7 linked regions of the Homo sapiens genome follow. The protein of the gene in region 6 interacts with the protein of the main gene of each other region in a pairwise test. Each region holds a gene or a part of one and is shown on either strand. Other genes may lie near its edges. The genes, in order: GABPB1, ZNF410, FAM110A, IL36RN, ASPH, AGR2 and THOC1.

What was found.
Region 1: the proteins of AGR2 (region 6) and GABPB1 interact in binary tests that used the Homo sapiens proteins (3 or more experiments, as listed by UniProt).
Region 2: the proteins of AGR2 (region 6) and ZNF410 interact in binary tests that used the Homo sapiens proteins (3 or more experiments, as listed by UniProt).
Region 3: the proteins of AGR2 (region 6) and FAM110A interact in binary tests that used the Homo sapiens proteins (3 or more experiments, as listed by UniProt).
Region 4: the proteins of AGR2 (region 6) and IL36RN interact in binary tests that used the Homo sapiens proteins (3 or more experiments, as listed by UniProt).
Region 5: the proteins of AGR2 (region 6) and ASPH interact in binary tests that used the Homo sapiens proteins (3 or more experiments, as listed by UniProt).
Region 7: the proteins of AGR2 (region 6) and THOC1 interact in binary tests that used the Homo sapiens proteins (3 or more experiments, as listed by UniProt).

What each region holds. Positions count from the first base shown.
Region 1 is NC_000015.10:50,347,919-50,352,463, forward strand, and holds part of GABPB1 (GA-binding protein subunit beta-1 isoform beta 2), read right to left. Parts: exon of another isoform or gene 1,018-4,545; intron 1-1,017.
Region 2 is NC_000014.9:73,917,437-73,921,981, reverse strand, and holds part of ZNF410 (zinc finger protein 410), read right to left. Parts: intron 1,003-4,545; coding exon 877-1,002; intron 1-876. UniProt on the Homo sapiens protein: Transcription factor that binds to the sequence motif 5'-CATCCCATAATA-3', and is specifically required to silence expression of fetal hemoglobin in adult erythroid cells.
Region 3 is NC_000020.11:836,373-840,917, reverse strand, and holds part of FAM110A (protein FAM110A), read right to left. Parts: exon of another isoform or gene 903-4,545; intron 1-902.
Region 4 is NC_000002.12:113,061,639-113,065,730, forward strand, and holds the end of IL36RN (interleukin-36 receptor antagonist protein), read left to right. Parts: intron 1-485; coding exon 486-613; intron 614-814; coding exon 815-1,039; 3' UTR 1,040-3,106; downstream 3,107-4,092. UniProt on the Homo sapiens protein: Inhibits the activity of interleukin-36 (IL36A,IL36B and IL36G) by binding to receptor IL1RL2 and preventing its association with the coreceptor IL1RAP for signaling.
Region 5 is NC_000008.11:61,707,467-61,712,011, forward strand, and holds part of ASPH (aspartyl/asparaginyl beta-hydroxylase), read right to left. Parts: intron 1-4,545.
Region 6 is NC_000007.14:16,794,730-16,799,274, forward strand, and holds part of AGR2 (anterior gradient protein 2 homolog precursor), read right to left. Parts: intron 2,966-4,545; coding exon 2,902-2,965; intron 291-2,901; coding exon 207-290; intron 1-206. UniProt on the Homo sapiens protein: Required for MUC2 post-transcriptional synthesis and secretion. May play a role in the production of mucus by intestinal cells. Proto-oncogene that may play a role in cell migration, cell differentiation and cell growth. Promotes cell adhesion.
Region 7 is NC_000018.10:257,279-261,823, forward strand, and holds part of THOC1 (THO complex subunit 1), read right to left. Parts: intron 3,843-4,545; exon of another isoform or gene 3,440-3,842; intron 3,027-3,439; coding exon 2,908-3,026; intron 2,453-2,907; coding exon 2,404-2,452; intron 1,998-2,403; coding exon 1,902-1,997; intron 1-1,901. UniProt on the Homo sapiens protein: Component of the THO subcomplex of the TREX complex which is thought to couple mRNA transcription, processing and nuclear export, and which specifically associates with spliced mRNA and not with unspliced pre-mRNA.

The sequences.
Region 1 (4,545 bases), on a different chromosome or scaffold from region 6:
GGTGGCGGGCACCTGTAACTGCAGCTACTTGGGAGAATCACTTGAACCCGGGAGGCAGAGGTTACAGTGAGCCTAGATCACACCACTGCACTCCAGCCTGGGTGACAGAGTGAAACTCCATCTGGAAAAAAAAAAAAAGAATCACTACTATAGTAAACCACCATAGTAAAAGTATCTTATCCCTCAAGTGTAATGAGACATAAACAAGCTAATTGGGTTATAGGAATGCTCAAGCCTCTTTCAGAAAAAGATTCTACATTATGTAATATAATCACAGCATTAGTGGGTTTAAGATATTCTTTAAAATAGAATCACAGTCAGGACCAACAGGAGTAGTTTTTTAAATTTTTTTTGGAGACAGAATCTTGCTCTGTCACCCAGGCTGCAGTACAGTGGCACAATCTCCGCTCACTACAACCTCCGCCTCCCAGACTAAAGGAATACTCCCACCTCGGCCTCCCGAGTAGCCGAGACACAAGCACACACCACGTCTGGCTAATTTTTGTATTTTTAGTAGGGACGGCGTTTCACCATGTTGGCCAGGCTGGTCTCGAATTCTTGACCTCAAGTGATCCGCCCGCCTCGGCCTCCCAAAGTGCTGGGATTACAGGCATGAGACACTGAGCCCGGCCATTTTTTTTTTTTTAAACTTTGAAACTTTTTGGCTGGGCACAGTGGCTCACACCTGTAATTGCTGCACTTTGGGAGGCCGAGGCAGGCAGATCACAAGGTCAAGAGATCAAGACCATCCTGACCAACATGGTGAAACCACGTTTCTACTAAAAATGCAAAAATTAGCTGGGCGTCGTGGCGCGCACCTGTAGTCCCAGCTACTCGGGAGGCTGAGGCAGAAGAATCGCTTGAACCCAGGAGGCGCAGATTGCACTGAGCTAAGATCGTGCCACTGCATTCCAGCTTGGCGACAGAGTGAGACTCCATCTCAAAAAAAAAATTTTTTTTAAATCATAGTATCAGTATGCTGAGTATTTTTTAAATCAAAGGAGATGGAGGTGGACATTTTCCATTATTTCATTTTAATTGACTTTAATTTACCATGCACTATAAAACTATAAAATACCATGAAAAGATGTTTTAATATTATAAAATAGGACTCAAAATTAATATTTTATAGGTTCCTTATCTTCAATTCCAAAAATCCAAAAAACTTCTGAAACCCAAAATAACTCATCTTGTGGTAAACCTTACCCAAACTGATATGAAGCTATTTACAGTCTTTATCCTATTTAGTGCGAACATTCATACATTTTGTTGCAGAAACAGTAACACTTTTGAAGGGGGATATTGCACTGGACTCTATTGGAAGGCTACACATTACTACCTTGCCCATATAAAAAAAAAATTCCTAATTCCATAACCTATTAGACCCTAAGAGTTTGAATGGTGGACTGTGATCCTATAATTGCTAACATTTATTGAGCTATTAACTGTTATGTTTCAGGTACTGTTCTGTTCACTTTATATGAAATAACATTTAATCTTTCCAATCATCATGAGCTAAGTATTATAATAATCCACATTTTACAAAGAAGGAAACTGAGCCACGGAGAGATTAAGTAAACTGCCTAAAATCACACAGCTAGAGTATGACTAACTGGGATGACACTGGGATGAATATTTAAAATATTACACATAAGAGTAACAACACACAACAAAATAATTGATTATGGTAGGGTGGTAGGAGTGATATGTTTCTCTACTCAATTGATATTACTTCTAGAATAAGGAATCAAACAAAAAATTACAAAACACTACATGCATTTACAAATTCTCATGTACAATTTCTACAAACTTGCTTAAAATGCAGAGTATAAAACCCAAATTTCTCAGCTTATGCTAACACATTTAATTTTTTATTGAAAAGTTACATCTTAATATCTTAATTACAACATGATAGATAATTTATATTCATTGTAGAAGTTAGAAAATTTGGATAAGCAAAAAGAAAACAATCACCTGTAAAACTACACTCAGAAATAACCATTTAACAATTTGGCACATATCCTTCCAGACATAATATATTTTTGGGTTTTTTTACCAAAATGGAATCATGTTTTTAAATTTATTTTTTCTCACTTACATATACCAAGACATCCTTTCATGTCTTTATATTATTCTATCATCATTTTCATGGCTGAGAAGGCAGTACCCCACTGTAGGGATGGACCCTAACAATCACTGTGAAACATTTAGGTTGTTTACAATTTTACCATATAATGATCAATAGTACTGGCTCTAGAGTCACACTGGTTGGATTCAAGTCCTGGCCCTAACACTTAACTAACTCAGGTACCTTGAGCAAGCAACCTCATTTCTCTATGCCTGTTTTTTCTTCTGAAAAGCAGAAATAGTACTACCCACTTCATATGATTACCGTGGGGCTTAAAGGCATTAATACACAGCTTTTATAATCAACAATACTGCATCTAGTATGCTCACAATTAAATATTCACACACATCTTTACTACATCAAAAAAAAAATTCTTTAAAGGGAATTTCCATGTCAGAAGGTATGCCAATTTTTAAAGCTGCTGAATCTACCAAATTACAGTGTGGTTTAAAGCCCTTCATTAAATAGCCTTCTCACTTAATACTCATTTCTCTTTATCCAGGAAGGCAAAAACTATTATCAAGTTAACCAGTTTGTTTCACTCAATTAGCTTTTTGTTCTTCCACCTGTAAACCTCGGCATATTTAATAAAACCTCAAAGTTTATAGGTAACTTGAAGACACCTAGCTCAAATTCTCCTTCAGTACGATTCCTCTACTCTAGAATCCCCAATTTGTCAGTGAACAGGAACAGCCTACCACCCAAAACAACTCATTCTATTTTCACAATTTTGAGGAAATTTATCTTGAAAGAGAATTGAAATCTGCTTCTTTTAAACTTCCACCCACTGACCCTAGTTCCTTCTGGTCAAGTCAAATCTGATCCTTCTGCATGACAGAACTCCAAATCCTTAAAAGTGGCTGTTACTTCTTAAAAGAAGCTCCTCTTCTTTAGGTCAAACATCCCATTTTTTCAACTTTTTCTCATTTCCATTTCTCTCATGATCAAGGTCCTCGTTTATGCTCTACAGATAAGTGATTTTGACACTTAGGTGTCTACCACCTTGGAAATGAGAAAAATTAAGGTCCGTTCCTACCCTACTTAAGTTTGGGCCTCTGTGTGGCTTTTTATTAGCTCTCCAGATGATTCTGATAAAGTCTGAGAATGAATACAAGGTCTCACTTATGATAGTATGCTACCCAAAAAGCCAACACAATACCCCAAATATAATATAACTAGTACACAGTAAAGTGGGGCTAACACCTTGCTCTGTCAATAAGCTGTTCTACCAACTTCAGAATTATTCACAGATGGGTGTGTTGGCTGACGCCTATAATCCCAACACTTGGGAGGCCAAGGTGGGAGGATCACTTGAGTCCAGAAGTTTGAGACCAGCCTGGGCAACACAGTGAGATCTCGTCTCTACAAAAAATTAAAAAATTAGCCAGACATGTTGGCAGGTACCTGTAGTCCCAACTACTCAGGAGGCTGAGGCAGAGGCAGGATCGCTCGAGCCTGAAAGGTGGAGCTTGCAGTGAAGTATAATCGCACCACTGCACTAAGCCTGGGTAACAGAGAAAGCAAGACCCTGTCAAAGAAAGAAGAGGTGCAAAGGGGAAAACAGGGAGGGAAGGAGAGAGAGGGAGAGGGACAGAGGGAGAAGGAGAGAGGAAAGAGGGAGGGAGGGAGGGAGGGAGGGAGGGAGACAGAAAGGTGCACTAGCCCACCAACTGAACTGACAGCTGATTGCACCAAAGCATCTTCTTTGTATAGAGCACTGTGATGTCAACACTGAGAAAAAACACAGGCCCTAATACTGATCTCATCTAGTGCTAGATTTACCTTCTAGAAAGCATGATGGAACAAACATCTTCAGAAAACTATAATACTAATTGTAGCTATCCCAATGTAGGCACATCAGAGCTATAGAAACATTGTGATTACTAGCTGGAAACCATACTAGTTGTTGGGGAGGAGAGGGGAGCAGAGGGATGACACTAAGGAAACTAAGTTGCTCTCAACTTCAAGATTTTGTGTGGGTTTGTTTTTCAACGTTTGCAAAGTCAGAAGAGATGGAGGCCATCAGTGAGTTCATCTGAACTCAGGCTACTTGCAAACAGAGACTGGGTAACTGCCTCGTGCACCCTCAAAAATAAATTCATGATGCAAAACTTCATGTAATTTCTGAATTTCTGAATTCCTCATGACGTGCACTTTACCTGTTACCTGTTAATATTTCTGGTACTGAGGGGCAAAAGAAAAAAGTAAAAAAAAATTCATGGTACAGGAGATGTGGTCCATTACAATGACACAATGTTATGGGAAAAAACACACTAAAACCAAGCATACTTTTTTTTTTTTTTTTGAGACAGAGTTTCGCTCCTGTTGCCCAAGCTGGAATGCAATGGCGCTATCTTGGCTTATTGCAACCTTTGCCTCTCTGGCTCAAGCGATTCTCCTGCCTCAGCCTCCCGAGT
Region 2 (4,545 bases), on a different chromosome or scaffold from region 6:
TCTTTCATTACTAGAAGTTAACCTATAGATGGGATGCCACCCCCTATTTCACCTACTTTCGAGAAACAAGAATAAACCTAGAAGGGAAAGAGTAAGCCTTAGAAGATAATGATCCTTGCTTGTGTTCAGCGTCTGAAGAATTAGCATATGAAACAGGATAGGTGGATCTTTAGAAAGGAATATTTGGAATAATTAAGGAAAGATATGGCGAAGGAATAAGAATTAAAAAGAGTTATCAAATTTCAGGCAGGGCAAAAAGGTAGTCATGACTGGTAAATAAAATATGCTTCCAGCCTGGCCAACATGGTGAAACCCCGTCTCTACAAAAATATAAAAATCAGCCAGGTGTGGTGGCACCTGCCTATAATCCCAGCTACTCAAGAGGCTGAGGCAGGAAAACTGCTTGAACCCAGGAGGCAGAGGTTGCAGTGAGTCGAGATGGCGCCACTGCACTCCAGCCTGGGTGACAAAGCAAGACTCCATCTAAAAAAATTAAAAAGCTTAAACTCTTCCCATGTGGAAATCTTTTATCACTGTGTTACTCAAATGCTTGTTCATGGATCAGCACTAGTTACCATCAAACTCACTAGGGAAACTTTTAAAACTACAGATTCTAGGATCTTGCAAATTATCTCATTTATCAGATTGCTTTGTTTTATTGGTGGGCGGACAAGCAACAAAAAGTATATAAATTTTAAAAGGTTGCAGATGATTCTACTGTATAGCTATGTTTGGAAACCATCAGCCCATCAAATGAGACCAGGTCTATCTACCCAAAACAGAATCAGAAAATTTCCAGATAAGCAGGCAGGACAGTGATTTGGCTCTTGGAACCCTAGAAGTAGTACAGCGTTCCACTATGCCCACCCTCCTCACCAGTTTGCTCCTGCTCTTGACTCCCAGCTGCTCCCAGCTGCAGGTGATGCTTTCTCATATGCACATTCCTGCTTCCACTCTGAGAGAAGGTCTTCCCACAGACTTGGCACTGATGAGGCTTCTCTCCTGAAACAGGGACCAGGTTAAACAAGGAAGCCAAAAGGACAGGAAGAGAATGAACTCAAGACCTAGATGGAGAAACCCAGAGAATGTTAAACTGAACATAAGCAGCTGCTCCTTTTCCCATTCCGCACCTTCCCAGCCTCTCAAACTTCAGTATATGGGGGAAGGCAGGAAGAGTACACCAGGAGGGCTTTAGCACACTCCCTGCTCCCAGCTGCTGGTCCTTTCCAGACCTTCTGTAATGCTGCCTTCACAAAACCTCTTTGGTATAGGACCATGGCAACCACAAAAAATATGCCTTCTTTTTCAGTTAGTCTTCCATGGACCTCTAGGACATGTGCTTTCCTCAAGGATTTCAATCCTGTGTTCCTAATATCCCCTTGTCATATTCCCTGCCACCCTCTTTAGGGTCATCAACATTCACACTGGTGGCTCTTACAACATAATAATCTAAATTGTCCTCTATGTCTTCAAGTCCCAAACTCTCCGTCTCCATTCTACCTACCCAGAAAACCATACTTAGAGCAGGGGTCAAAAACTCATGTCTATAGGAGACTGATAGGTAGCAAAAGTAAGTAAAATGGCCAAGTGGGGGCTGCAGTAACCTAGAGAGTACCTAGAAAAGGGGCAGCTGTTATTCAGCTCTAGCCAACTGTTGCCATGGGTAGATTAAGGCAGATTCTCTGATTTTTTTTTAAGACACTGGAAATAAGGATTTTTAAGTAGAATCTCCCAATTTCTAAATGCTAGGAACAAATTCACAATTGACAAACACATGGTACAGCAATCATCATTGCTGATTGTATTTTGCTGGGAATGCAAAATACAAAAACCTCTTTGGGGGAATCTGACCAGATCTAGAAAAATTGTAGATGCACTTGCCCTTTGACCTAGGAATCCCACTTCTAGGAATATGTCCCAAAATTACAGCAGCAAAATGTGAAATACTCTGTGCACAAGGTTATTCATCACGGCAACATTATTTTAAATGGCTAAATACTGGAAACAACGTAAATATTCATCACAGAGACTGACTAAAAAGCTATAGATACTGCAGTAGTCCTGCATAGCAAAAAAAAAAAAAAAAAAAAAAAAACCTATACAATAGAAACAGGGTGGAATATTACAAAGCTTAGAACTAAAAACTGAATCACCATTTGAACCAGCAATCCCATTACTGGCTATCTACCCAAAGGAAAATAAACTGCTCTACCAAAAAGACACTTGCCCTCACATGTTCAATGCAGCACTATTCACAACAGCAAAGACATGGAATCAACCCAGGTGCCCATCAATGGTAAATACGATACAGAAAATGTGGCACATACACACCATGAAATACTATGCAGCCATAAAAAAGAACAAAATCATGTCCTCTGCAGCAACATGGATGCAGCTGGAGGCCATTATCTTAAGCAAATTAACACAGAAACAGAAAATCAAACACCATGTTCTCACTTATAAGCGGGAGCTAAACACTGGGTACTTATGGACACAAAGATGGGAACAATAAACACTGGGGATTCCAAAAGCGGCTACGGGGCAAGGGCTGAAAAACTACCTATCAGGTACTATGTTCACTGCTTGGTCAACAGGGTCATTAGTAGCCCAAACTTCAGCATCTTGGAATATACCCTTGTAACAAACCTGCACATGTACCCCCTGAATCTAAAATAAATTTATTTTAGCCAGGTGCAGTGGTTCACACATGTAATCCCAGCACTTTGGGAGGCCGAGGCGGGCAGATTACTTGAGGTCAGGAGATCAAGACCAGCCCGGCCAACATAGTGAAACCGCATCTCTACAAAAATTAGCTAGGCGTGGTGGCGGGCGCATATAATCCCAGCTGCTTGGGAGGTTGAGGCAGGAGAATTGCTTGAACCCAGGAGGTGGAAGTTGCAGTGAGCCAAGATCATGCCACTGCACTCTAGCCTGAGCCAGAGTGAGACTCTGTCAAAAAAAAAAAAAAAAAAAAAAAAAAAAAAGGCCGGGCACGGTGGCTTACTCCTGTAATCCAGGCACTTTGGGAGGCTGAGGCGGGAGGATCACGAGGTCAGGAGATCAAGACCATCCTGGCTAACACGGTGAAACCCCATCTCTACTAAAAATACAAAAAGGTAGCCGGGCGTGGTGGCGGGCGCCTGTAGTCCCAGCTACTCGGTACGCTGAGGCAGAAGAATGGCGTGAACCGAGGAGGCAGAGCTTGCAGTGAGCCGACATCACGCCACTGCACTCCAGCCTGGGAGACAGCAAGACTCCGTTTAGGGGAAAAAAAAAAAAAAAAAAAAAAAAAAAAGGCCATATGAAATGTCCAGAACAGGCAAATCCAGACACAGAAAGCAGATTAATGGTTGCCAGGGGCTGGAGAAAGAGAGACATGGTCAATGATACTAATAATGGGACTTCTTTTTCTTTTTTTAATCATCTCCTGGATATGGGGATCCTTTTTGGGATGATGAAATGTTGTGGAGTCGGACAGTAGAGAAAACTGTAAAACTATGAATATATAGTTGGCCATCCACATCCATTGATTCAACCAAGCAGATAAAAAATATTCAGAAAAAATAAAAATAAAAAATAACAGGCCAGGCGCAGTGGCTCATGCCTGTAATCCTAGTACTTTGGGAGGCCAAGGCAGGTAGATCACTTGAGGTCAGGAGTTCCAAGACCTGGCCAACATGGTGAAACCCTGTCTCTACTAAAAATATAAAAATTAGCCAGGCACATGCCTGTAATCTCAGCTACTTGGGAGGCTGAGGCAGGAGCATCACTTGAACCCAGGAGGTGGAAGTTTCATTGAGCCAAGATCGTGGACCACTGCACTCCAGCCTGGGCAACAGAGCGAGACTCCATCTAAAAAAATAAATAAATAAAAAATAACAATATAGCAATAAAAAATACAAATAACCAATATAGCATAACTATTCACATAGCATTTACGTTGTATTAGGTACTATCAGTAATCTAGAGATGATTTAAAGCATATGGGAGGATATGTGTAGGTTATATGCAAATACCATGCCATTTTATGTAAGAGACTTGAGTATTTGTGGATTTTGGTATCTGTGGGGTCCTGGAACCTATACACCACAGATAACAAGGGATAATTATATTACTACTAAAAATCACTTAGTTGCACCCTTTTCTTCTTTTTATATTTTAGATGGAGTCTCACTCTGTCACCCAGGCTGGAGTGCAGTGGCATGATCTCGGTTCACTGCAACCTCCCCCTCCCAGGTTCAAGTGATTCTTGCACCTCAGCCTCCTGAGTAGTTGGGATTACAGGCACATGCCACCACACCCAGCTAATTTTTGTATTTTTAGTAGAGATGGGGTTTCACCATGTTGGCCAGGCTGGTTTTGAACTCCTGACCTCAGGTGATCCACCCACCTCGGCCTCCCAAAATGCTGGGATTACAGGCATGAGTCACCATGCCCGGCCGGACTGCACACTTTTTTGAGATGAATCTTATGGTATGTGAACTATATCTCAACTTAAATAACCTGCATTTGCTTGTATATGCAAAAAGAACCACTGGAAAAGTA
Region 3 (4,545 bases), on a different chromosome or scaffold from region 6:
TTCTTGGTATCGGGTAACCCATTTTAATCTTCCCAACAATCACTATCTGGTGAGTTCTATTGTTACCCCATTTGACTAATGGTAAACTGAGGCTGAGAGAGGCTGAGTCACTAGCCCAAAATCACTCTGGGGAGTCCAGCCTGCGCACTTTCCCTCCAGACCAAGGCTTAACGCCACCACTTTCTAGCTGTGTGTCCCTGACCAGGCTGCGGGACCCTCCTGGTGCTCCATGCTGTCACGTGTAGAGTCCATCCCTCTGGAACAGGCTGAGCCTGAGCATGCCTCAGCTGCCTTGTGAAAACGGTTAACATCGGCAACAACAGCCGTCATAGTAACAACAATAACTAGAATTTTGGGGTGCCAGGCACCATACTCATTTAAATCCCCAGAGCCCCCTCATTTAATCCCATGAGACTGCAGCCCTGCAGGAAGGAATTCCCAGAGGGAGGTGACTGTCACCTCTTCCACCCCAAGTCCTATAACTCACTGCAGGTAGGAACATTTGATAGGCCATTTTTTCATGGGAATCCTGAGGCCCAGAGAAGGAGCTGTCCCCCAGGCCTCAGCCCCAGCCCTCTGCCACACTCAGGCTGAAGAGGCTCCTGTTCCATGTCTGTGCCTGTGGGAGCTGGGCCAGGACTAGGGTACAGGGCATGAGGAGACCGGCAGTGATGCACATCAGCTTTCCTTCCCCCTCAGCACTGCAGCCTCCTCCAGTCCCTGACTTTACAGGGGACGGGGCAACAAGTCCTTCATCCTCCAAATGGCCTGCTGAGCCCTGCCTAGCCCTCCACGGAGGCAGAAATGGGGGATGGGGAGGGAAGGCTCCTTCAGGCGCTAATAGTAGTAACAGCAAAGCAACAATAATGATTTTCGTAATAGCAAAGAAAAGAACAGTCCTTCCTTTCCAGCCCCAGCCCCGGACCCTACAGCTGCCAAGATGCTGATGCCTAAGAAGAACCGGATTGCCATTCATGAACTCCTTTTTAAGGAGGGAGTCATGGTGGCCAAGAAGGATGTCCACATGCCTAAGCACCCGGAGCTGGCAGACAAGAATGTGCCCAACCTTCACGTCATGAAGGCCATGCAGTCTCTCAAGTCCCGGGGCTGCGTGAAGGAACAGTTTGCCTGGAGACATTTCTACTGGTACCTTACCAATGAGGGTAGCCAGTATCTCCGTGATTACCTTCATCTGCCCCCAGAGATTGTTCCTGCCACCCTACATCTGCCCCCGGAGATTGTTCCTGCCACCCTACACCGCAGCCGTCCAGAGACTGGCAGGCCTCGGCCTAAAGGTCTGGAGGGTAAGCGACCTGCAAGACTCACAAGACGGGAAGCTGACAGAGATACCTACAGACGGTGTTCTGTGCCCCCTGGTGCTGACAAGAAAGCCGAGGCTGGGGCTGGGTCAGCAACCGAATTCCAGTTTAGAGGCAGATGTGGTCGTGGACGTGGTCAGCCACCTCAATAAAATTGGAGAGGATTATTTCACATTGAATAAACTTACAGCCAAAAAAGAAAAGAACAAATCTCATCTGAGCACTTTCTTTGTACCAGACACTGTTCTAAGCTCTACAAAATGTTAACTAATTTAATCCTCACACCTACCCTGTGAGGGCTACTATTATTATGCCCATTTTCAGATGAGAAAACTGAGGCTCCAAGAGGTAAGGCCACGTGCCCAAAATTACACAGCTGATTAATGGTAGAGCCAGGATTGGAACCCAGGCTCACATCTGGGGAGGGGAGGTGGAAGAGACGGTGTTTTCAGTGTTGGGCTTTGGCCACTCACCAGATGTGCCCCCCAAGGAAGTCCCAAGGAATCTACTGCCTCGTCGGCTGGACCCCAGAGGGAGAAACCACCTTAGGAAGCACTCCCTGGTCATGGTTCTGAGTCTCGGTTTCCTCTGCTGTAAAATGGGGGCAATAACGGCAATGTTTTCCCAGCAGAAATAAAGTCTCATTACTGCTGTGTTTAAACCCTCCTGTGGCTCCCTTACAATAAAATCCAAGCTCCCTGCAGTGAGCTGAGATTGAGCCACTGCACTCCAGCCTGGACAACAGAGCAAGACTCTGTCTCAAAAAAAAAAAAAAAAAAAATCCAAGCTCCCCACTTGGCCCTCAGGCCTTCCAGGACTCAGTCCTTGTCCAAATCTCCCATCTTATCTCCAACCTCTTTCCTGCTCTGGCCACAAAGCCCTCCCTGCTGTTCCTGAACATAAGGTCTTTCCTGCCTCAGGGCTTTTGCACCAGCTGTTCTCTGTCTGGAACCTCTTCCCTCACCCCCTTCAGATCTCATTTCAAATGTCATCTCCTCCAAGAGACCCCCTCAGCAATTTCACCCATTTTATTCCCTTCCGAGCACTCATTACATCCTGTCATTTTAGATACTCTTATCTAGGATAGGAAATATAACTCGTTTCCTGTCTCTCCCACTGGACCATGAGCTCCATCACACCCTTCCAATTTTCTTCCTTCAGGGACCAAACACGAGGAAATACCGTTGAACAACCGGCTGTTCTGGACCCAGCCCACCTCAAAGGCCAAGGCCACTCATCAAGAGGTATATATTAAATGTATAAAGCTTTTTCTTATATCAGTAAGAAAGAGAGAAGAAAGAAAGAGAGGAAGAAAGAAAGGAGAGAAAGTTAAACATATCTGTCAAGAATAACACAAAAGTGATGTTGTGTCCTTCTTAGTACATGGTATCAGAAGGCTTCTTTTTTCTTTTTTTAGAAATGAGGTCTCACTGTGTTGCCCAGGTTGGAGTGCACTCCATAGCTCACTGCAGCCTCAAATAGATGGGCTGAAGCAATCCTGCCACCTCAGCCTCCTGAGTGGCTGGGACTATAGGTACATTACCACACCCACTCATAACAACAGTTTGTCTTAATCTTAGTGATCAGCCAATTCCTTGGTTAAGGCAGTATCTGCCAAATTTCTCCACTGTACAGTTATTATTTTCCCTTTGTAATTAATAAATATCTTGTGAGAAGAGAAAAAAAAAAAAGGACAGGGTCCCTAAGCACCAAGCCTCCTCCCCAAACCCTCACCGTGCTCCTGGCCTTTCCAGACCTGTCCTACTCTTCCTCCAACTTCAAGTCACCCCCATTCAAGCTGGGCTCTGACCACTTCTACCCAAGTCCTGTTCTTTCTCCAAAGCCACCATATACAAACCTCTGCACACACTGGTTCTGCTGCCTGCAGTGGTCTTCACTACTCCATCCCCCTGGCCATATCTGTAAGGTATAGCATGGACTCCAGAACCCATTCAAATCCTAGCTCCACCAATGATTAGCTATGAGACCTTGGATAAAATACTCAACTTCTCCATATCTCAGTTTCCCTAACTGCAAAACAGGACTCACAACAGTGCCTCCCTCTCTGCATGAGGTCCATGCATGACAAATGTCACCAAAGTGCAGGCTATGATAACTATTCAACCAAATAGATCATCCAGTGCCCAGCTCCTGAGGGAGGGCTTCATCAGCCCAGAAAGCTGATCCACTATTCTCAGAGGTTACAAATCTAAGAGAAGCACAGGTAATGGTTAAGAATGCAGAGTCATGACTGGGTGCAGTGGCTCAAGCCTGTAATCCCAGCACTTTGGAGGCTGAGGCAGGTGGTTCACAAGGTCAGGAGTTCAAGACCAGACTGGCCAAGATGATGAAACCCCGTCTCTACTAAAAATATAAAAATTAGCCCAGCATGGTGGCGGGGGCCTATAATCCCAGCTACTCAGGAGGCTGAAGCAGGAGAATCATTTGAACCCGGGACACAGAGGTTGCAGTGAGCCGAGATGGCGCCACTGCACTCCAGCCTGGGCGACAGAGCGAAACTCTTGTCTCAAAAAAAAAAAAAAAAAAAAAAAACAATGCAGAGTCACTTGAACAGACATTTCTCCAAAGATAACAAATGGCCAACAGGCACAGGAAAAGATGCTCAACACCATTAGTCATTAGGGAAATGTAAATTAAAACCACAATGAGACACCACATCACACCCCTGAAGATGGCCATTACCAAAAAAAAAATACAAACAGAAAATAACAAGTGTTGGTGAAGATGTTGAGAAATTAGCACTTTGTGCACTGCTGATGGACACATAAAATGGTGCAGTCACTGTGAAACACAGTAAAGTAGTTCCTCAAAAAATTAAACAGAATTGCCATAGGATCACCCAGCAATTCCACTTCTGAGTGTATACCCAAAACAATTAAAAACAGGAACTCAAACAGATATTTGTACATTCATGCTCAAAGCAGCATTAGTCACAACAGCCAAAAGCAATCCAAGTGTCCATCAAGGAATGAATGGATAAACAGAATGTGGCATATACATAGAATATTAGAATAGATTATTCCGCCATAAAAAAGAAAATTCTAACACATACAACAACATGGGTGAAACTTAAAGGCATTATGCTAAGTGAAATAAGCCAGACACAACAAGACAAATACTGTTATGATTCCATTTATAATACCTAGAGGTACCCAAAGTAGTCAAATTCACTCAAACAGAAAGTAGAATGGTGATTGCCAGGCAC
Region 4 (4,092 bases), on a different chromosome or scaffold from region 6:
CATGTGTGTGTATATGTATATGTGTGCATGCATGTATCTGTGTATGTATGTATCTGATGTATGTGGGTGGTGAGGGGATGTACAGAGAGGAATGAGACCCTCTTTTGCTCTCAGCAACATCACAGGGTGTAGAAAGTTGTCCAAACAATTCCAAAGGGGGGCTTATCAAGACAGGGTTCAGAAAAAGGCCTGAGACCCAAGGGACATTAAAGGAGGGGGTTGAATCTATTTTGGGGTGTAGAGGCTTGAAGATTTGACCCTGAACTAGAGGGTGGAGTGGAGGTGGTACAATGTGCTTCCATGCCTTGATGTCCACTCTGAGCCAGTGGACAGGAGAAGCCATGTCATGACAGCTGCTGAGAAGCCTCCCTTCTGCCCAGCCTGGGGGCAGGCCGTCTTACAGCAGTCCTGTGCCCTAGAGCCCAGGACAGGGGAAGAAGGAGGGAAAGGCATCCAGGGCCCTGCATCTGGCCTCTTTCCCACAGGTGAAGAGATCAGCGTGGTCCCCAATCGGTGGCTGGATGCCAGCCTGTCCCCCGTCATCCTGGGTGTCCAGGGTGGAAGCCAGTGCCTGTCATGTGGGGTGGGGCAGGAGCCGACTCTAACACTAGAGGTGAGACTTGGGGCATCCTCACTGGGGACTCAGCCACAGATGCTGAGCCTACTGAAGCCGGGCAGCCCACAGCCCTGGTGCTGTGGGACACCCTAGCAGGATTCTGTTGATGGCAGCTTTGCCTCCTCCCTAAGGATCCTGCCCAGCCCTCCCTCTGCCCCTGCTTCTGCCCTCACCTGACCTCCCCTCCTCTGCCGGCAGCCAGTGAACATCATGGAGCTCTATCTTGGTGCCAAGGAATCCAAGAGCTTCACCTTCTACCGGCGGGACATGGGGCTCACCTCCAGCTTCGAGTCGGCTGCCTACCCGGGCTGGTTCCTGTGCACGGTGCCTGAAGCCGATCAGCCTGTCAGACTCACCCAGCTTCCCGAGAATGGTGGCTGGAATGCCCCCATCACAGACTTCTACTTCCAGCAGTGTGACTAGGGCAACGTGCCCCCCAGAACTCCCTGGGCAGAGCCAGCTCGGGTGAGGGGTGAGTGGAGGAGACCCATGGCGGACAATCACTCTCTCTGCTCTCAGGACCCCCACGTCTGACTTAGTGGGCACCTGACCACTTTGTCTTCTGGTTCCCAGTTTGGATAAATTCTGAGATTTGGAGCTCAGTCCACGGTCCTCCCCCACTGGATGGTGCTACTGCTGTGGAATCTTGTAAAAACCATGTGGGGTAAACTGGGAATAACATGAAAAGATTTCTGTGGAGGTGGGGTGGGGGAGTGGTGGGAATCATTCCTGCTTAATGGTAACTGACCAGTGTTACCCTGAGCCCCGCAGGCCAACCCATCCCCAGTTGAGCCTTATAGGGTCAGTAGCTCTCCACATGAAGACCTGTCACTCACCACTATGCAGGAGAGGGAGGTGGTCATAGAGTCAGGGATCTATGGCCCTTGGCCCAGCCCCACCTCCTTCCCTTTAATCCTGCCACTGTCATATGCTACCTTTCCTATCTCTTCCCTCATCATCTTGTTGTGGGCATGAGGAGGTGCTGATGTCAGAAGAAATGGCTCGAGCTCAGAAGATAAAAGATAAGTAGGGTATGCTGATCCTCTTTTAAAAACCCAAGATACAATCAAAATCCCAGATGCTGGTCTCTATTCCCATGAAAAAGTGCTCATGACATATTGAGAAGACCTACTTACAAAGTGGCATATATTGCAATTTATTTTAATTAAAAGATACCTATTTATATATTTCTTTATAGAAAAAAGTCTGGAAGAGTTTACTTCAATTGTAGCAATGTCAGGGTGGTGGCAGTATAGGTGATTTTTCTTTTAATTCTGTTAATTTACCTGTATTTCCTAATTTTTCTACAATGAAGATGAATTCCTTGTATAAAAATAAGAAAAGAAATTAATCTTGAGGTAAGCAGAGTAGACATCATCTCTGATTGTCCTCAGCCTCCACTTCCCCAGAGTAAATTCAAATTGAATCGAGCTCTGCTGCTCTGGTTGGTTGTAGTAGTGATCAGGAAACAGATCTCAGCAAAGCCACTGAGGAGGAGGCTGTGCTGAGTTTGTGTGGCTGGAATCTCTGGGTAAGGAACTTAAAGAACAAAAATCATCTGGTAATTCTTTCCTAGAAGGATCACAGCCCCTGGGATTCCAAGGCATTGGATCCAGTCTCTAAGAAGGCTGCTGTACTGGTTGAATTGTGTCCCCCTCAAATTCACATCCTTCTTGGAATCTCAGTCTGTGAGTTTATTTGGAGATAAGGTCTCTGCAGATGTAGTTAGTTAAGACAAGGTCATGCTGGATGAAGGTAGACCTAAATTCAATATGACTGGTTTCCTTGTATGAAAAGGAGAGGACACAGAGACAGAGGAGATGCGGGGAAGACTATGTAAAGATGAAGGCAGAGATCGGAGTTTTGCAGCCACAAGCTAAGAAACACCAAGGATTGTGGCAACCATCAGAAGCTTGGAAGAGGCAAAGAAGAATTCTTCCCTAGAGGCTTTAGAGGGATAACGGCTCTGCTGAAACCTTAATCTCAGACTTCCAGCCTCCTGAACGAAGAAAGAATAAATTTCGGCTGTTTTAAGCCACCAAGGATAATTGGTTACAGCAGCTCTAGGAAACTAATACAGCTGCTAAAATGATCCCTGTCTCCTCGTGTTTACATTCTGTGTGTGTCCCCTCCCACAATGTACCAAAGTTGTCTTTGTGACCAATAGAATATGGCAGAAGTGATGGCATGCCACTTCCAAGATTAGGTTATAAAAGACACTGCAGCTTCTACTTGAGCCCTCTCTCTCTGCCACCCACCGCCCCCAATCTATCTTGGCTCACTCGCTCTGGGGGAAGCTAGCTGCCATGCTATGAGCAGGCCTATAAAGAGACTTACGTGGTAAAAAATGAAGTCTCCTGCCCACAGCCACATTAGTGAACCTAGAAGCAGAGACTCTGTGAGATAATCGATGTTTGTTGTTTTAAGTTGCTCAGTTTTGGTCTAACTTGTTATGCAGCAATAGATAAATAATATGCAGAGAAAGAGAAACAAATGCATTTGTTTTATTATTGCAATTTTCTCCAATATTTTTTATTTTCTTTCTCACAATGAACAACTATCCTTCATTTACCCAAATATTCTATTTAAAAGCTAATAATACAGCATTTGTTGAGTCATCTGGTTCTGCAAGATTGAGATCCTCTTGTCCTATGTGCCAGGAATGAACTCCAGTGTCCCCACCCAAACCCTGGGGAATGGGAGCAGAAGCCAGAGGAGGAGCCCATATCTGAGCCCCAGGTATTCCACCTGCACTTCACCTGTTGGACCAGCTTGGTGGTTGAGAGTCCACTGAGGCACTGGCAAGGAGGTGGCCAGGACAGACAAGGCTGCCTCTATGGACCTCACAGCTCCAGCCCAGATTCAGCTGAAGTCCTCAGGCAACAGGCAGCACAGCTCCTACCCCAGGCCTCTCAGGGCTGCCAAGAACATGAGCTCCGGATGCTAGGCTGTGTTTCAGACCCTGTTCACACTCTCTTTGTCCATGGGCCCAGACACAGTCTTGTGCTGCTCCCTCTGCTTTTGGGTCCTCCATCCATCCTCTCTGCCTAGATAAATCTCTCATCTTTCAATACCCTGCTAAGATGTCACCTCCTCCAAGAAGCTTTTACTGAGTTGAGACACCCCCAGCTATCTGATCTGGCAATGTTTGTATGCACCTCCCTGCACTGTAGTACCTTAACTTGGAGTCTGTGGCCCCTGGGATGACCTTAAGGTTAGGGACATATAAGTTTGTCTCTTAGCACCTTGCATAATGCTTGGCACATAATGGAAACCCAATGAGTATATAATGTAGAAACTATTTCTCCACCCTGGAATATTCTCTCCTTCTCCTCCACCCATCTAAACAGGCCCACCTCTAAGGGAGCAGCTTAAATTCCACCTCATTCTTGAAGGTTTCTCCAGCCTGAATTTGTTGCTTCCTCATTTGTAGGATGACAGAACTCAGAAGAGCTTTAGCCATGATGAGCCGACAC
Region 5 (4,545 bases), on a different chromosome or scaffold from region 6:
AACAAGCTCTTATTCATTAGGGGCAGAACTGTAAGTTGATACAACCACTTGGGGGTTAAAAAATGGCAATATCCAGTAAAGTCTAATGTGTGTACTTTCTATGACCCACAATTCCAATTCCAGATTATGCCCTAGAAAAACACTCAGACATGTATGCATGGGGAGAGATAGGCACATACATGTACAGGGCAGCATTATTTGAAAGAAAAAAAGTGGCCTGCGATAGGATGGCTAAATGAAAAGCAAGGCATATTCATATGGTGTAGAACTACATATGTGAAAATAAAGAACTGGAGTTTGGAGGAATTTCAAACAAATGCTGTCAAAATAGTATGCCAAGTAGAAGCCTGTTCACAAAACTTTTAATACGTGCTATACAGTATATATACATATATGTGTGTGTGTGTATAGGTATATTTCTACACATAGGGATATAGATATACTTCCTGGGCAGTTTTCAAATACATTGATTTAATAATAGATACAGTTTACATGTGTGGATACATAATGTGTATGTGCTACATGTTATATATTATTTTGTGCATATATACCTGTATTTATGATAATGACTACCATAAAATGTTTAACAATGGTTAGGAAGGAATACCACAGGAGAGGAAAATCTAGGAATCTGATAATGTTTCATTTCTTCGCCTATATGGTCAGTACATGGGCATCCACTGCATTACTCTCTACAATTATTTATAGGCTTAAATATGTACTATTTCAAATACATACAATTTTAAAGAGCAATACACAGAAATATTTTTATTATAAAGGTTAGAGAACTAGCTCTCTGCCAAAAAGCAAATCCATGAAACAACTTACAAAAACTCAGTGACAAGCATCTTATACAAATTGACTTGATTCAAAGAATGGAAAAGTAGTTAAATGCTAGATATTCTTTCAACAAATATTTACAACACAGATTTTGAGGTTTATGTAAGTCAAAAAATTAAGTGTCCTAAATAAAATTTACAAGTGAAACTAAGACCAAAAGAGTCTTTCCAGTATACCAAGAAAATTGAAATTGAAAGCAGCCTGTGAAAGATAGGGACAAAAACTGTATATTAGAAGAATAATAAATAAGAAAAAGAAGTTACAGACAGGATAGAACAACAAAATAATAGTGACTCTGCACTATGGAATGGTAGAAATGGCTGTCAAACCTATGTAAAATATGAGAAAAGGCAGTTACAACAATGCTGGTTGTGAAATAAAATTATCAAAGGATATTCTCCTACTTTAAATTTAAGACTGATCCTTGGGGTCTTAAGTACAGGATGAGTCACTGGGTTCAACGTGTGGGCACACATGTAGGAGAGAAGTGCTGGCATTTCTCCAAGTACAGAGATAGTGGCTGCCCTTGGAAACCTGACTATAACTGGACAGCAACCACTCCCACCCCCCAGCCCCCCACCCCTCAACCAAGTCAATTCACCAATGCTCTCCGCTCTGGAGCACACATAGTATCTACGGCAGATGATGACAGTCACATGACTAGGCAAGTGACCTGAATCTCACAGGGGGCCGAATAGCCCAGATCCTTCAAAAGATGATTTTCTTTTTAAAAAGAGTTATTCACCAAGGGAGCTCAACATTTCCTTTGAGTCTAATAGGTTATCTAAACCAAATTTGTCCTCAGCTGTGGCCAATTTGATAGGAACTGAATTACATTCAGTGATTTGCCGTTAAAAGATAACCACATCAGCCAAAGGTAACCAAGACACATCCCTGAAAAACAAAGATCAAATGCAGGACAAAAGCCTGAAGCATCCCTCACATCAGGGGAATAAAATACTAAAATTTTAAAAATAATGACTAACAAGAAAATACCATCTTGGCTCCCAGCAGTACCAGAAGAAAGTATAATTAAAAAAAAGTTAAAGCACTGGCCTCCAGACTATACTCCCACAGTGGTACACAGGGAAGAAAAGAACATCCTGAATCCTTAGTCCTCTAATAAAAATGGCCAGAGCTGCAGGACCGAACCAGAGAAACTCATCACACCCACATGTGCAGTGCAGAGCAGACACTGGCAGCAGATAATGAAGCAAGCAGCCCTTGCACCTCCACATTTCCCGATAGATGGCTGAGGCTTTTCCCCGGAGGTTTAGGTGGGGTGTACATAGGTTATATGTACATACAGGGTTTATTAAAGAGAAGTTCATTTGAAAAACATTTTTGTACCTTGGTACAGAATGAAGTCAAGCCATTTAGAGGTGATATGGAAGTATCCAAGCCACAAACTAAGCTGCATATTTTCATGATATTAAAACAGTGGCTGGAGTTACCTCAAAAGACTAAATATATCTGAGCCTGGGTAAGATAAAATAATGTTACAGATTTCTGAGCCATTAAGGGCAAATCACCAACTTGAAAGTTGATGTGCAAATGGATACTTACACCTCCAGAAGCTGAGAGAAATGTATCGAGCAGTCCTCAAAGCATAGTATAAACTCTATCTCAAGAATATACATTTTACTTAACACAAAGATGCTATGGAACATGAAAATAAATAAATAAATAAGAATAAATCATCAAAAAAGTCAAAGCATGCAATGGCCTGATGACATCTACACTTTTATAGTCTCCAAAGTTTTGCACTCACCCCTACTATTAGACGTACTTTAACGGAAACAACTGAGAAACACAAAGCCATATGAAATCAGCATTAGTGATATCAAAACTCTGAAAAGAAAGTAGATAATAATTCTTTACATTTAAGGAGGCTGGGAACAGAGATTTTTAGCGATTCTTGGTTCTGATTCTTACACAGATATGATCCAGGTCATCATATTCCTTCTCCCAAACTGCACTAGCTTTCTGGAGAAAAGGGTTTTTCTATTGGAACCAGAGAGCTCAGGGGCTAAGTATCTGATATTAACTAACAACAAGATGGATAGACCCTATGAGCCTTTATCCAAGTTCCTCTGTTGATAACTGGCTGAAAATGAAAATGTCATACATTCATTTTCTAATAATCTCTATGAGACAGATTATTTTAAAGCAAGACTAAAATATAGTCCAAAATATAGAACTTTCACTTCCACAGACCACCAGAGGTTAACTGGTCTCTGGAAAATGTGTTCATAAACTCCCTCAGAACATTATTTAGTGCTTGGTTTCATATGATTTGGTCAGGATGGACAAAATGCTGTTGAACTGAACACAAAATAGCTGACGGTTCTTGCAGTGGAAGAATTATGGTCCTCCTATGTTTTCATCTTAGAATGAGTAATGGAGGATTAAGCAATTGGCTCTGATGGTCTTTGGCTAAAGAAAGAAAATTTTGCTAGGGCCTCTTCATTCAAGGGCTCCACAATGCAATCAGCAGTGTATTGAATCCCTCAGTTACTTAGTAATCTAAGAGACACTCAAAGTAGAAAGAAAAAGGAAGCTAAACTAAACTCAGAAGTGTGTTTCTAAATGACAAATACTCATCAAATGAAGCTGTTAATGTTTTACAGGCAGTACAGGAATATATTTCATTCTAATTAAGCCTAAACAAAAAGGCTGCTCAATCTACTGAGACACCTTGAGAGAGTTAAAAAGTAGCTAAGAGTTTTTAAGTGCTTATCTATCAATAGTTTTGAGTATATACAGACGGATTAAATAATAATTAAAACCTGCTGTTACATAACCCCAAGCTTCAAACTAAAAGGGGGATATATTCTACAGTGACACCTAGTGGCAAAAGTTAATGTAGTAGCAGGACACCCAGACAAAATAAACAGGGAGATGGAAAGCTGCTAGGAGATACAGGGAGTTAAGGGGTGATACTCAAAAGGGAAAAACTAAACAAACAAACAGAAAACATTACACATACGAGTGTCTACAAAATAAGCCCAAAAGGACATCATGATCCTTCTTTGTCAAACTATTTTCAAATCAATAAATTTGAAAAAGGCTTCCCCTGGGCCCAACTGGCCATGCAAGTCCAGTTCTATATGCAAAATAAAGGTAGGAAGTCTAATTTATTCATGTTTCTTTTATATTATAAAGAGTAAAACTGAAAAAAAAGTAAAATTGAACTCTGTAGAAAACCATTTTATCATTTTTCAGCTTAAGCTGAAGAAAATAAAAAGCAGACACTTGCTTTAAAAATCTGTGATATAAATTCCCCAAATTCCAGCTTCCAAACATCACTTTTCAGCAAAAAAACCACCAAGATAAAGTTTGGCCAGGAAAAAAAAAAGAAATCACCTTTTCCCTAAAATGCATGTTTCAAATGACTGGGTTCTTTTTTCCCCATACGTTTACACAACAACTTAAGAAATAATAATGTTTAATGTGACCAATGCCGTCATTTTCTGACTCTCAATGTAAGACATATCAAAAAACGTACTATTTGAACACATATACTTCTTCTCAAACTAAAATTTCAAATAGTGTTTCAAATAGAATTTTTGTCAAGGGAAATGTAATTGGTGATAGGACAAAAGCATAGTTTTCTCCAATAATTAAATGTAGTACTCATGGAGACAGCCAGAAGAAAACTTGATAATCTAGTTCAACTCCAATTACATACTAGAGAACCTAAAA
Region 6 (4,545 bases):
TCTTCAATTGAGATTAAAAACAAACAAACCTGAGATGGAAAGAGTGTGATTTGCCTGAAGATGCAAGGCTAGTTAGGGTCAAACTGAGTCCGAGGCGTCCCTAAGCCTAGCTCTCTCTCACCTCACCATGCAGCCTCTAGTCCCATCACTACAGCAATAGAGGTGTTCAACTCTTGGGCAACATCCGAATTGAAGGTCACACTTACACAGAGCTGTATCTGCAGGTTCGTAAGCATAGAGACGATTTGAATATCTTCCAGTGATATCGGCTCTAACTGTCAGAGATGGGTCTGCAAAGATAAATGAAGCAAAAGGGAATGGAATGGTTTGTTTTCAAACAACCTGTATTTATTGCCCCGGGGAGCTGAAGTTCATGTATTCATGTCCTGTGAGGGAATGGAGTGTGTCTGCACTCACAGGAGCTCTGATCCATCCACTCTACTACCCAGCCCCTGGCAGTTAGTAGCAAATGCAGGGCTGGAAACATCAACAGCTGTGCAGTGCTATTTGTGGAAAAGGTTATGAACCCTTCTGTTCTATCTATGGCAACCTGAAAACAGAATAATATATATTTAGGGGTGACATGGTGTTTTTTTTTTTTTTGGTGAAAACATTAACATTCTCTACTGCAAAATTATTTTAAATTCTTGAAACGATTATGTTGTAGTTTACATGTTTCTAGATCATTGGAAACCCACATCCAATGCTAGTTTTCAAAACGAGTTTTTTAAAAAAAGTTAATAGAGGAATGCAAGTCCTTAACAACAGCAAAGTTCAAATAAGCATATAGTACCTTCACTATATTTTACTTTATTGTTAATTAACTGCATTTTTAAAAGTAGAGATTGGTCTTCTCTTATGTATACTTATATCCCTCTAAATTTAAATCCATCTTGCCATGTTTTGTATTTAACTTGAAGTGATCTAATTAATGAGAAAAAGAGGTATTTTAAAATTAAGGTGCATCCAAAAGGGAAGCGTGAGGATACAGAGAGATCTGGAAACCTTGCCTTGAGAGACGTAATCGAAAGAACCTAGGACACGTGCCCTGAAAATGAGACAAGGAAGACATGTGAGAACCATCTGCATGTTTGCAAAGTCTGTCGCTGGTACTGGAGTGGGCAATCTGTCATTTCAGAATGTTGGACTAAGGCCAGACACATAAATTACAAGAAGCAGATGTACATTTATTCACCAGATTTAAGACCAACTATACTTCTGTTTGGTGCAGAGGATACAAAGACACGGTCTAATCTTTGTAAGAAATTAACCTAAGAAGGGCTTTTTAAATACCCAACTAGCAGCTCACCTGGCTGCACATTGGAATCATCTGGAGAGCTGTAAACACTATGGATGCCTGCCTCCCACCCCCAGAGATTCTGATTTAATTGGTTTGAGGTGTGGCCTGGGCAACTTGATCTTTAAAATCCTCCAGGTGATTCAAACATGTAGTCAGGGTGGCTACTACGGAGCTAGAAGAGCAAGCTGCCTTGGAGCTGGTTCTTAGGACTGAAGGAATTGAATGTGGGTTAAAATGCCCTTCCACAGGGATGCTGTACAAAGAATTCCTGTACAAGGTATGAACAGACATCTATAAATTCCCTTTTAATGTTAGGATTCCAAATGTCCTAAATTCTGACAAAACTAAACCTATAAAATTAGTGCTTTAGTTCAGCCTTCTTCCTTTTTTTCTATTTCTTGTTTTTCTTTTCCCTGCTTTGTACATTCAGTGTAAACTTTTAATGAATTACACAGGTGAATCATATGATTAGCATGAATTGTTGTAAGTGATGGATTTCATTATGGATTGTCCTTAAATCAGTATGACTTTGAACAAAGCCAAACTCAGTACATTCATTCAATAATTAAACACATATTGATGGAGAGCCTACTGCAGGGTCACGTTGGGAATATCATGGTGAGCAGAAATAGGTACAGTCCCTGCCATAGGGGCTTATAGTCCAATGTGGGAAATATTTATTACATAACCACCCCCAAACTGCAAAATTATACCTGAGGAAAGTATGACTACAAGAGCACATAGTAGGGATTTGACTCGGTCAATGAATAATGATGATTGGGGAGTTAATGATGTGAAATTGGGGGACAGAGAAGGAAGTGGGGAAAGCATATGAAAAGTACCAGTGGCAGGAAGGAGCATGTGGCTCCTTTCATTTCTTTTTCCCACCTCATATTCCTTTTTTTTTTTTGAGACAGAATCTCGCTCTGTTGCCCAGGCTGGAGTGCAGTGGTGCCATCTCGGCTCACTGCAACCTCTGCCTCTTGGGTTCAAGCAATTCTTGTGCCTCAGCCTCCCAGGTAGCTGGGATTACAGGCTCCTGCAACCACGCCTGGCTAATTTTTTTTTTGTATTTTTTAGTAGAGATGGGGTTTCACCTTGTTGGCCAGGCTGGTTTGGAGCTCCTGACCTCAAGTGATCTGCCGGCCTTGGCCTCCCAAAGTGCTAGGATTACAGGCGTGAGCCACCCAGCCTTATTCCTAACTTTCTTAAAAATAATGATAAAAAATGTCAGAAAAATCTAACACACAAAGTGAAAGTTTGCTGGATTAAAAAATAAATATTTGCAGGCCTCTCGTATTCAGGAAATTTATCAATATGTTTAAATAGTGAATAGGGTGCTTTGTTCTCAGAAGTATTATAGCAGAAGATGAAAAGTTACAATTAGCATGTGAGAAAAGAAAGTGTTGTGTGGAAATAGGTAAAAGCTCACATTTTCTAAAGAAAATATGTTGCGGAACTTAAAGGAATGTCATGCTCCTTGCTAGAGCTTAGTGATGACATTGGCCATGGCAACGTGGCAAGGGACAGTGGGGAGGAGAGAAGGAGGATGGCAGCACTAGTATGTGTTTCCGAGTTATCTCACTGTCACTTCCGCTTACCAACAAACATAATCCTGGGGACATACTGGCCATCAGGAGAAAGGTGTTTGTCAGTTGTTTCATACTAAAATAAAAAGAAAAGCATCTTTTAGTTTACTTTGACTTTTCAGTCGTTTTCAAACTTGTTAATACAAGAATCTGTCCATTTCCGGCCAGGCATCTCAAGATATCATAACTCTTCCACACAGAGTTTATTGTACAGATGAGGAGACAAGTTACAAGCATGAAATAATAAATAAGATAGAGCAGAACATGAGATAAAGTGCTGAATGGATGTGATAAAGAGCAAAAAAATTAAGGGAGAATTTGGAAGGAGTTACTGTGTTTGGGGAAGACATCTGGGATGAAATAAGAGGCTATTAAGGAAAAAAGCAGATGTCATTTCTAGAGAAATTACGGAGACAAGTACGGGATTTTCTTGAGTATTCATTTATCCATTTATCAATTTTTATTTAGAACTGTATTTAGCAAGGCATGGTGCTTATCTTTAATGAATGCACACTCTATTGAGAGATACAGGTAGGAAAATGAATATTGAGGATGCAGTGGGTGAAATGTTACGGTGTAGGATATGCAGGTTTGGTGATTGCCTTGAGCAAGACATTTAGCCCAGAATGCAGATTCCACCCCGACTAGGACTTTCTGAAGTGGATAAGGAGGAATCTTTACAAATGAACAGGAGTCAGTTAGGTGGAAAAGAAAGACACTTCATGCAGGGGGAAGAGTATGGAGAGGACAGGTGGAGCATTTTCTCCTATGGCCAAGTGCTGGGGAAGGACTGAGTTGGGGGGATGCACGAGGGCAGTGGCGAAAGAAGGTGCTAGAGCTGCTTCAGGGGCCGGCTTAGGAATGACTTTGCACACCATGCCATAGTGTTTTCCTTTGTTCAGAAATAGTTAAGAACCACTGGAGGGATGTTAGAAGAGGCACTGTGACCCCAGTTTGGTCTGTAAAGCAACTTCTCTGACAGCCATGTGGGATTAGACAGAGTTTATCTTGTAGACCAGGAGCCATTTAGCAGTATTACAGTAAGCTAGGGAAAGTGAAAGAGGCTTACTAAAATAGTGGTCCTGAGTTTATAGAGAAGTGACTAGTAGCAGGAATACTTGGAATTTAGAAGCACAGGGCTTATTGCATGCTGTAGGTAAGTAGGAGAGTCCAATCTAGCACAGTACCACTTTCAGTAAAATAGGGAATAGAGAAAGAAGAGCTATTGGAAAAGCGCAAACCAAGATGATTAATGTGCAGTGAGGAACATACTGAGTTTAAGCTGATTATGAGATATCTGGAATATGGTTGGATAGACAATTTGGAAGTTGTTTCATGTTTGGGTAAGATGTAGGAATTATTAGTGTGTCGGAATTGATTAAAGGCAGTTGTAGATGGAGTTGTTCACTGAATACAAAATATGGAAAGAGAAAAGGGTCAAGTAGAGATTCATCATGTCACTCACATTAAGGAGTAGGAAGAGGAAGAGGAAGAGCCCATGGAAGAGAGGCAAGGAAGAACTACTGGTGCGAAGTGGTCTTTAAGGAAGCCAACCTGTGAAGAGGAAGGGCCGGAGGGCTCAAAAGGACATATGATTAGGTAGAGTCATTTTTTTGTTGGCTTGCTTTTAGAAGGAAAATGAAACATTTGTATACA
Region 7 (4,545 bases), on a different chromosome or scaffold from region 6:
AATATAGAATAATTTATAATTCTGTTGGAAGCACAAATGTAAATTATATTAATGAAAAAGTGATAATGTATAACAAATAAGTAAATACATTATAGTTAATGAGAGCCAAGTTTCTTACTGTTAGAGAAAGAGGTTAATAAACAGATCTACTGGTGCTGGATTCAACTCAGAGGTATCAGTAGAATCTCATATTTTTTGCTGCTGTTCATGTAAAATATATACTGACAGATACAGAAACAAATACAGATGAGTATGGTTAGTATACACATATGTCTCTCCTAGCTCTGGTCTCTGAGAGGGCCTAGAAGTAGTGATACTCCAGTAGCAATGAGCACATCTTCTCAAACGTAACAGCCAATGATAACCAGACACACAAAGAGGCAAGATACCATGAGTGAGAAACAGTCAAAACAGACAGGAGAAACAGACCCACCAAGACTTATTTAAGGTATTGGCATTACCAGATACAGACAATAAAGTAACAATGTTTACCAAGTTTAGAAAACTAAAAAAAACAATTCTTAAGAAATTATTCAGAATCAGGTAGAGAGAGACAAACAGATGAAAAAATATATAAGGAGTAAAAAACAGAGGATACAGTGAGAAGGTATAATGGATGTTTAATTGAAGTTCCAGAAAAAGAAAAAGATAAAGAGGCATACACAATATTTGAAGAGATAATGGCTAAATTTTTACAAACTAGATGGAAGAATCTAATCCATACATTCAAGATGTCCACAATCCTAAGCAGGACAAATAAAAAGAAATTTACACAGAGATACATCATAGTAAAACTAAAAGAAAACCAAAGGAGAAAAAAAATCTTAAGCGCAGAGAAAAAAATGTAGATTATCTTCAAGAAGTGAGACTGACATCTGACTTGTCAATAGAAAAATGGGAAACAGAAGACAAAGTAAAGATTATTTCCCGTGAGATGAAATCCTGTATCTAGTGCCAATCTAGAATCTTATACCTATTGGGAGGAGGTCAAAATACCAATATTAACAGGAGTTTGGAAGAAAGAAAGGAAAAAAAATAAAGGAGAAGTAACGATTTTTAGGCAAAACACAGACCTGCACTGAAGAAAAGTCTAAAAGGGAAAATGATCACAGACAGAAAGCCAGAAATACAAGAAGTGGTAAATCTATATTAACCCTGACCACATAAAATAAGTATGAAAGAAAACAGCACAGACATAAGATGACAAAAAGAAAGCACATAAACCACTGCTAACATATGCTATAGGTCTTTCTACATGCAGGCACTAATGTAAGCTCTTCACATGTTTTAATTCATTTAATCCTCAGAACATATAAAGTAGGTGGTACATTAGCCCAATATTAAGGAAGGGAGGACTGAAGCAAGGAGATATTAAAATCTCGCATATTTGAACATACTGGGGAGGCGGAAGGCTCTGGAGGACAAGCAATGTCCCATTTCAGGAGCTAGATAGTGGTTATACAGTATTTGTTTCATTATTATTCGCTTTATGTACTTTTCTATATGAGCGTTATATTTCACAATAAAAATTTGTTAAAAAAAGAGAAATGAAAGGAAGTCTATATAGCTAAATAGTTGTGACTGAGAGAAAATCCAAACACAAAAATAGGCATACATTATGAAATACGGATATGATGGTTCATATCTACATGTTTCAGTGTGATTCAACTTTACATTAATAAGCTTTGAACTTAAAAGAATCCATGACTTTGTTTCAGGATTACCTGTATTATATACTAGGACTGCTATACATTTATAAGTAAAAGAAAATAAAGTGACAATTTCTATGATGTCTTTCAACTTTTTAGAACCATTTTTCTCATTATCATGACAGATTTTAATCTATTAAAAACTGGAAAAGATTTTCCTGCAGAAAACTCATTTAATGCATAAAAGCTTACCTGATTTCTCAGACAGAGGGAAAAGCCTGGCCAAAAAGAGCTGAATCCGTCCACAGAAGACTGTATTCTGGGATTTAGACAATCTTCTTAGGAGATCTAACAATATATGAAAATGAACGTTACACAGAAAAGATAATTCTATGTTTATTACAACCACACCTAAAAGTTTCTAAACCAGTGTGTCAAGAGTATTTTCCTAAAGCAGTAGTTCTTAAATTGGGGGCCGAAACCACTGCCACAAAAAAGTACTATAAATTAGGAACAAAACAAGTTCAACATGACATGAAAAAGACAAACTTTACTACGTTTCTGACTTTAAGCTTATGCCCAGAACAAAAACAGTTTAAAGTGAATAATGAGTTCTAACAAATCAGATTGTTAGTTAAAAATGCAGATACCTAATCTATCTTTAAAATGTTATCACTGGTATTTAATTCAACCATGTGTTTTTCTGGGCATATTTACACTTAAAAAGCAATCATTTTATCACTCAATTACTTACCATTGCACATACGTAGTAAGTAATTTTTCCCAGCAGAATAGAATGTATTCTGAAATTAAGACGGAAATTATCACTCTTCTTCAGAACTTGTTACACATTCTTCAATAATAAGTTGCCAGAGTGAAATATTAAAGAACACTAACATGCACTGAGAATCTACTATGCCACTTTCACTTTTTTTAAGCAAATAACATTTTCAATGAAATAAAAATATTTTCAGATATAAGAAAACATGATACTAAGTAACTGTTTTAAACATGTGAAAGTGTGAATTTTCAAGTTAATTTTTATTACACAAATTAAATCAAATTTTGTATTTCAAGTTTTTCTCCACACATGGTTTTTATTTGGCTCTCCCGAGAGAGCAGTATATAATTTTTTCATAGGCAGAAACTTGTTGGCATTCAGCAATACTACAAATAAATTTAAAAAAAAAAATCTACCCTCAGAATTCTGGATCTATAGAAAGATAAAGTTAGCAGGAAAAGAAACTAAGGCACTTACTGATTTCCAAGTAGCAACATTTTTTTCCACAAAAGTGAATATTGTGTCACACTGATCCAAAGGAAGACAATCCAAAACATCTCCCAACAATACAAAAGGTGTAGATGCGGTACAAATACCTTCAAGTGGAGCACAAGCCAATTTAAAAGTTTAAAAAACTGTAGAGTAGAATAGCCTATGAAAAATAATTCTGAAGAATATCTTAAAAGGTACACTTTGTTACTCATAACAAGGTTTTAAAAGGACAAGAAGTGGAAGCAACCTAAAAGTCCCCAAATAGGACATACTTAAGTAATTTTTGATATGTGCACTCAGTAATGATGACAATAATTCTTGACAAGATCTAGAGCATTTACTATATGTCAGGCACACTAAGTACTTTACATATACTAACACATTTAATCCTTACAATCCTATGAGGTAGAGCATATCATTATTTGCATTTTATAGAATGGGAAAACTGAGACACAGAGAGGTTAAATAACTTCACCAAGATCATAGAGCCAGTAAGTGGTAGAGCTGGGATACGAACCCAGGCAGTCTGGCTCCACAGTCTGTTTTCTTCACCACTAAGCTATTCAAAAGAATATAATGCAGCCAATTAAAAATGATGGTTATAACGACTATAATAACTTGGAAAAATGCTTATGATATAATGCTAAGTGAAAAAAGGCAGGATTCAAAATTGTATGTACATATGGTTATGACAATAAAAAAAATTCTTAAAAGACTATAGAAACTAAAACCATTATACCAGATGAATGGTAGCTTTTAAAAGTAGAGGAATTAAGAGTACTGTTTTCCCTTCTTATTTCTAAATGTTTTGTAATGTTGCTAAATTGTCTTTGTGATTTGAAAAGATTATCTTCAAAAAATAACAAGGTTTGATATTAACTATGATTCAACATTTAAAATAACAGTATTGTTTCAGGGGAAAGAATGGAAAAGTAGAAAGTTACTGTTTAAAGAACAACAAAATTAAGATTTTTCTTAAGAAAAGGTCTACGTAGTCTATCTAGACTACTTAGAATACTTTTATATCCCTACTCATTCTTCCTTCTATTTTAAGGCAATGAGTACTTACTAACACTCATAAGTGTTTAAGAAAAGTAGTCACTTAGGCATGGTATATGGAGGAAAAATATCTAGGGTGATCTAAGCCCAAAACAGTGCATTAATATACTATGTCCAGAAAAAAGGAAGAAATATTTCCAGCTGTACTCTGCACTAGTAAGATCATATCTGGAATGCGACGTGAGGGATATTGCCTAGAAGCAGTGGGTGAAATAAAACAGCAGATTTCAACTCAATACAAGGGAACACACCAATAACCACATTTGTCTAACAGGACTCAAACAGTGAGCTCCACTAATGAGCATGATTCAGCAGAGGCTGAATGACCACCCACCAGGGATGTTACAGCAGAGAAGCAGTCTAGGCCAGAGATGAGACTGGACTAGGTGACCTCTAAAGTCCCTAACAATACTTAGATTCAATGATATTATATACCCTGCACATCCAAGAGATTTGAGAAGCATATTTTCTGCCCTTAGTTGCAGTATAGCCTGGAATAAGTTAACTCACATTTAATAATTATAGAACTTTTTCTAGATTCTACTGCCAAAATTCTGAGTCAGT